2 linked regions of the Homo sapiens genome follow. The protein of the gene in region 2 purifies or fractionates together with the protein of the main gene of each other region. This does not show direct contact. Each region holds a gene or a part of one and is shown on either strand. Other genes may lie near its edges.

Region 1 (3,500 bases), about 61 Mb from region 2:
CACTGACTTCCACAATGGTTGAACTAGTTTACAGTCCCACCAACAGTGTAAAAGTGTTCCTATTTCTCCACATCCTCTCCAGCACCTGTTGTTTCCTGACTTTTTAATGATTGCCATTCTAACTGGTGTGAGATGGTATCTCATTGTGGTTTTGATTTGCATTTCTCTGATGGCCAGTGATGATGAGCATTTTTTCATGTGTCTTTTGGCTGCATAAATGTCTTCTTTTGAGAAGTGTCTGCTCATATCCTTTGCCCACTTTTTGATGGGGTTTTTTGTTTTTTTCTTGTAAATTTGTTTGAGTTCATTGTAGATTCTGGATATTAGCCCTTTGTCAGATGAGCAGGTTGTGAAAATTTTCTCCCATTTTGTAGGTTGCCTGTTCACTCTGTTGGTAGTTTCTTTTGCTGTACAGAAGCTCTTTAGTTTAATGAGATCCCATTTGTCAATTTTGGCTTTTGTTGGCATTGCTTTTGGTGTTTTAGACATGAAGTCCTTGCCCATGCCTATGTCCTGAATGGTAATGCCTAGGTTTTCTTCTAGGGTTCTTATGGTTTTAGGTCTAACGTTTAAGTCTTTATTCCATCTTGAATTAATTTTTGTATAAGGTGTAAGGAAGGGATCCAGTTTCAGCTTTCTACATATGGCTAGCCAGTTTTCCCAGCACCATTTATTAAATAGGGAATCCTTTCCCCATTGCTTGTTTTTGTCAGGTTTGTCAAAGATCAGATAGTTGTAGATATGCGGCATTATTTCTGAGGGCTCTGTTCTGTTCCATTGATCTGTATCTCTGTTTTGGTACCAGTAACATGCTGTTTTGGTTACTGTAGCCTTGTAGTATAGTTTGAAGTCAGGTAGCGTGATGCCTCCAGCTTTGTTCTTTTGGCTTAGGATTGACTTGGCGATGAGGGCTCTTTTTTGGTTCCATATGAACTTTAAAGTAGTTTTTTCTAATTCTGTGAAGAAAGTCATTGGTAGCTTGATGGGGATGGCATTGAATCTATAAATTACCTTGGGCAGTATGGCCATTTTCACGATATTGATTCTTCCTACCCATGAGCATGGAATGTTCTTCCATTTGTTTGTATTCTCTTCTATTTCATTGAGCAGTGGTTTGTAGTTCTCCTTGAAGAGGTCCTTCATGTGCCTTGCAAGTTGGATTCCTAGGTATTTTATTCTCTTTGAAGCAATTGTGAATGGGAGTTCACTTATGATTTGGCTCTCTGTTTGTCTGTTATTGGTGTATAAGAATGCTTGTGATTTTTGTACATTGATTTTGTATCCTGAGACTTTGCTGAAGTTGCTTATCAGCTTAAGGAGATTTTGGGCTGAGACAATGGGGTTTTCTAGATATACAATCATGTCGTCTGCAAACAGGGACAATTTGACTTCCTCTTTTCCTAATCGAATAGCCTTTATTTCCTTCTGCCTAATTGCCCTGGCCAGAACTTCCAACACTATGTTGAATAGGAGTGGTGAGAGAGGGCATCCCTGTCTTGTGCCAGTTTTCAAAGGGAATGCTTCCAGTTTTTGCCCATTCAGTATGATATTGGCTGTGGGTTTGTCATAGATAGCTCTTATTATTTTGAGATACTTCCCATCAATACCTAATTTATTGAGAGTTTTTAGCATGAAGCGTTGTTGAATTTTGTCAAAGGCCTTTTCTGCATCTATTGAGATAATCATATGGTTTTTGTCTTTGGTTCTGTTTATATGCTGGATTACATTTATTGATTTGCGTAGATTGAACCAGCCTTGTATCCCAGGGATGAAGCCCGCTTGATCATGGTGGATAAGCTTTTTGATGTGCTGCTGGATTCAGTTTGCCAGTATTTTATTGAGGATTTTTGCATCAATGTTCATCAAGGATATTGGTCTAAAATTCTCTTTTTTGGTTGTGTCTCTGCCCGGCTTTGGTATCAGGATGATGCTGGCCTAATAAAATGAGTTAGGGAGGATTCCCTCTTTTTCTATTGATTGGAATAGTTTCAGAAGGAATGGTACCAGTTCCTCCTTATACCTCTGGTAGAATTCGGCTGTGAATCCATCTGGTCCTGGACTCTTTTTGGTTGGTAAGCTATTGATTATTGCCACAATTTCAGATCCTATTATTGGTCTATTCAGAGATTCAACTTCTTCCTGGTTTAGTCTTGGGAGAGTGTATGTGTTGAGGAATTTATCCATTTCTTCTAGATTTTCTAGTTTATTTGCGTAGAGGTGTTGGTAGTATTCTCTGATGGTAGTTTGTATTTCTGTGGGATTGGTGGTGATATCCCCTTCGTCATTTTTTATTGCGTCTATTTGATTCTTCTCTTTTTTTCTTTATTAGTCTTGCTAGCGGTCTATCAATTTTGTTGATCCTTTCAAAAAACCAGCTCCTGGATTCATTAATTTTTTGAAGGGTTTTTTGTGTCTCTATTTCCTTCAGTTCTGCTCTGATTTTAGTTATTTCTTGCCTTCTGCTAGCTTTTGAATGTGTTTGCTCTTGCTTTTCTAGTTCTTTTAATTGTGATGTTAGGTGTCAATTTTGGATCTTTCCTGCTTTCTCTTGTGGGCATTTAGTGCTATAAATTTCCCTCTACACACTGCTTTGAATGTGTCCCAGAGATTCTGGTATGTTGTGTCTTTGTTCTCATTGGTTTCAAAGAACATCTTTATTTCTGCCTTCATTTCATTATGTACCCAGTAGTCATTCAGGAGCAGGTTGTTCAGTTTCCATGTAGTTGAGCGGTTTTGAATGAGTTTCTTAATCCTGAGTTCTAGTTTGATTGCACTGTTGTCTGAGAGATAGTTTGTTATAATTTCTGTTCTTTTACATTTGCTGAGGAGAGCTTTACTTCCAACTATGTGGTCAATTTTGGAATAGGTGTGGCGTGGTGCTGAAAAAAATGTATATTCTGTTGATTTGGGGTGGGGAGTTCTGTAGATATCTATTAGGTCCGCTTGGTGCAGAGCTGAGTTCAATTCCTGGGTATCCTTTTTAACTTTCTGTGTCGTTGATCTGTCTAATGTTGACAGTGGGGTGTTAAAGTCTCCCATTATTATTGTGTGGGAGTCTAAGTCTCTTTGTAGGTCACTCAGGACTTACTTTATGAATCTGGGTGCTCCTGTATTGGGTGCATATATATTTAGGATAGTTAGCTCTTGTTGTTGAATTGATCCCTTTACCCTTAAGTAATGGGCTTCTTTGTCTCTTTTGATCTTTGTTGGTTTAAAGTGTGTTTTATCAGAGACTAGGATTGCAACCCCTGCCTTTTTTTGTTTTCCATTTGCTTGGTAGATCTTCCTCCATCCTTTTATTTTGAGCCTATGTGTGTCTCTGCACGTGAGATGGGCTTCCTGAATACAGCACACTGATGGGTCTTGACTCTTTATCCAATTTGCCAGTCTGTGTCTTTTAATTGGAGCATTTAGTGCATTTACATTTAAGGTTAATATTATGTGTGAATTTGATCCTGTCATGCTGTTAGCTGGTTATTTTGCTTGTTAGTTGATGCAGT
Region 2 (3,500 bases):
TCAACTACATCATTAAGCACACTGTATTTTTTTCAGACTTTCTTAATGAAGTAAGCAGTGCAGTGATTTGCATTCCAGTGCAAACTCCTTATTTTACTGCAGACCAGCACTTTGCACAGTACAATAGAATACAAATTTCTTTAATTCTAGTTATAGCATCCTTGCTCTTAAAAGCGAACATGATAAACCAGCTGTTGTCCATCATAAAAGGAGTTTCAAAGTGCTCTCTTGGAATCCTGTCTTCTATTCCTATTCTAAGAACAGAGCAGAACGAAAAGGAGTCAGAATGTAAATATAGCAAATCTGATTCTGCAATTTACAAATAAAAAAAATTTCCATTATTTTAGTCACTTTAAACATTCAGCATAAGAAAAGCATTTGAGTCTCAAAGATTTTTTGAATTTTCAATAATCCATTGATTTACTCTTTTCAAGGCATAACATTTTTATAGTTTACTTCCTATTAAAATGCTATAAAGGAAATAATTTTTAAATTATCTGTATTAAAAGTACCTGTATACATTGATGAGACTTTTACTGGCTTTTGCTGTTTTTCTCTTTTTAAGGTATTATTCTCTCAGGGCATATACTTAGAATATGAAAGCCTGTGTCATGAGCAAGCCTGTGTCTCTAAACCCATGGTTTTCGTCAGATTTATCAATTTGTTCTTATGCATGGAAAAACCTTTTTATAGGTGACAATGTTGCCAAAGGAAAAAGCTCATTTTCGTTTTCAATTGTGAGAAAAGGAATACTCATGATTCCTTCCCCACATTTCTTCTTCTCTCCTCCCCAAGCTAGTCTTTTCTTCAGTTCCTGATGAGGACTGAACCTGATATTATTGATGTCTTCCTGAGACAAGCTTTCAGATTGCCAGGGGATATCACTAAAGTAAAACAAAATCACTACTTCTCATTTTAAGAACTACCTTCAGTTTTAGACGAGCTCTAAACTGAATGCTAAGAAAGAACAGAGATCAAATGTCTTTAGAAGACTCTTGATAAGTAAATTATATTTAAAGATCTAAATATTAAATGACTTTCAAGGTGCTGACTTCTGGACTATGACATTGTAAAACGTAAAGAACTGCTGACTAGTAACATGTAAAAGACTAGGCTTTGCAAAGCTACAAAAACAATAGGAATATTGTATTCTTTAAGATATTTTTGTTTCAAAATAATCATCCCTAGGTGAAAATGAAAAACAGTACCTCGGAAAATATTGGTTTTCTGTGCTTTAAATCATTCTTATAAAATTAGCCAATGTGGGGCTGGGCATGGTGGCTCACATCCGTAATCTCAGCACTTTGGGAGGCCAAGGTGGGCGGATCATGAGGTCAGGAGTTCGAGACCAGCCTGGCCAACATGGTGAAACCCCATCTCTACCAAAAATACAAAAAATTAGCCAAGCATGGTGGCACGCACCTGTAGTCCCAGCTACTTGGGAGGATGAGGAAGGAGAATTGCTTGAACCCAGGAGGTGGAGGTTGCAGTGAGTGGAGATCGTGCCACTGCACTCCAGCCTGGGCAACAGAGCGAGACTCCGTCTCAAAAAAATAAAAATAAAAATAAATAAAATTAGCCAGTATGTAAATAAAATATCTGGGACAAATGCAAAGCAATTTATTGTGTTAGCTAATATAGCCTTTCAATTAAAATTCCATCAACTGCTCTTTCAGGTAAGAAGCACTCAAATAGTAAGTTTTTCCTTGTTCATCTGCACAACTTGTGTTCCATTGAACCAAAATGCTGTTAGTTTATCAGTTAAGATTGGGAGGCTTATAGTTATCAGTAAGAACAAAAATGAATTTAAAAGTACAGCTTACTAAATAACTAAATCTGAACCCAAGCAAACAGTACCGCTTAACTAGAATAGTTTCCTACATGGAAAAAGTCAAAAAGAAATTACCTTTTCTTGAAGCAACTTTGAGGAAGCTGCATCACGATTTCCTTTTCCACCAGCAGTATTAAAATGAGACCATGGTAAAACTGAATTAAAAGTTAAGGAATCATCCAAGGCAAAATCTGGTTTCATAAAAATCTATTAAAAAAATGCATTTCCCTCAATTAGATAAGTATTTTCTTTATACCCATTATCTCTTCTAACATCATGATCATTAAACAAAATTAACGTGGATCTTGAGTATGAATAGCAAAAGCAAGTGATAACAGTTGAGTTCTTTACACAAATATCTATAAGAAAAATGTGTAAATTTCTCACCAAGCTTAAAATACTCATAAAAGATACAAAATGTTTTTTGCCTTTACCAATGGAGATGGTCATTCTATTACTACATGATCATACTCACTCATGCAGTCCTACAGGTACATACCAGAGGCAGATATAATACTCATCCTAAAATTTCCACATTATTTCCCACTGATAGTTTTTTAAAATGCCAAATATCAATTTCTCTAACCTATATTTCTATTTTCTCCTGCTCAAAATTGTTTTAAAATTAGTTTAGATTAAGCATACAATAAATATTAAAACCAAAACAAATTCAATTTTATGAATAGACTACTCTTCCCTTACATATCACGACCAGCTAAGCAATAAGGCCTACCCGTTATATTTTGTAAATATACCTTGAATCTCTGCTTTCCTGTATCTCCACAGCATTCAGTAGTTCAGCTCTTCAATAGCTATTTACTGATATCCTTCCCTAATCTATCCCCTATACTACTGTTAGAGATACTCCTCTACAATGTCAAGTATAACTGTATTAACTTCCCTGTTTAAAACTCTCAATAGATTCCCATGACCCACAGACCAAACTATTTAGAATGGCATCCAAAACCCTTCATTGTTTTTCTGGACCCACTTACCTCTTTGTATCTTGTCACTCCCACTATTTACCCATTACACTCTAGCAATATTCAATTCTCTTCCATACTCTTATTCTTTTTACAATGAGTGTATTAATACATAAAGTATGCATATCTTTACATACATACTTCTGGCCTAGAACGCCTTTTCTTGTACATCTTCCTGAAGAACATGACCCAATCAAAAGGGCAAATGTGTCGTTGTGCATGACATAATGACTCCCATCTCTGAACACAAATATATCATGCATACTTAATTATTTACCTCATACTTTATAGAAATTATTTATTTAGTATGCATATCTCCCTCTGGAGACCATATGTTCTTGCAGGGTTAAATTTATAGCTTATTTTTGTACCTCTAACACCTAGCATAGGGCCTAAAACATGGTTTAATCAATTTATGTATTTATTTATATGCTATATTTTATTTACTGATTTATTTTACCTATATACAAAAATTAGAATGAATATGGTAGGAAAAAAATCTAACTAGAGACATGAGTAAATTTTCTAATCCCTGCTTTGGTATTATAACTAAAAGTATTGATTAATTCAATAAATATTTACTGACTACTTCTGATGCTAGGCACTGAGGGAGAAACAAAGATAATTTATTAAAGAGACCCCAATCTCATGAAGCTTCAATCCAAGGGATGTGATAAAATATTATA

The links.
Region 1: the proteins of VPS54 (region 2) and EIPR1 purify together in Homo sapiens (affinity purification with mass spectrometry; 4 studies listed by BioGRID and IntAct, with this or other methods). This does not show direct contact.

Annotation. Positions count from the first base shown.
Region 1 is NC_000002.12:3,371,319-3,374,818, reverse strand, and holds part of EIPR1 (EARP and GARP complex-interacting protein 1), read left to right. Parts: intron 1-3,500. UniProt on the Homo sapiens protein: Acts as a component of endosomal retrieval machinery that is involved in protein transport from early endosomes to either recycling endosomes or the trans-Golgi network.
Region 2 is NC_000002.12:63,963,929-63,967,428, forward strand, and holds part of VPS54 (vacuolar protein sorting-associated protein 54), read right to left. Parts: intron 2,039-3,500; coding exon 1,907-2,038; intron 1-1,906. UniProt on the Homo sapiens protein: Acts as a component of the GARP complex that is involved in retrograde transport from early and late endosomes to the trans-Golgi network (TGN).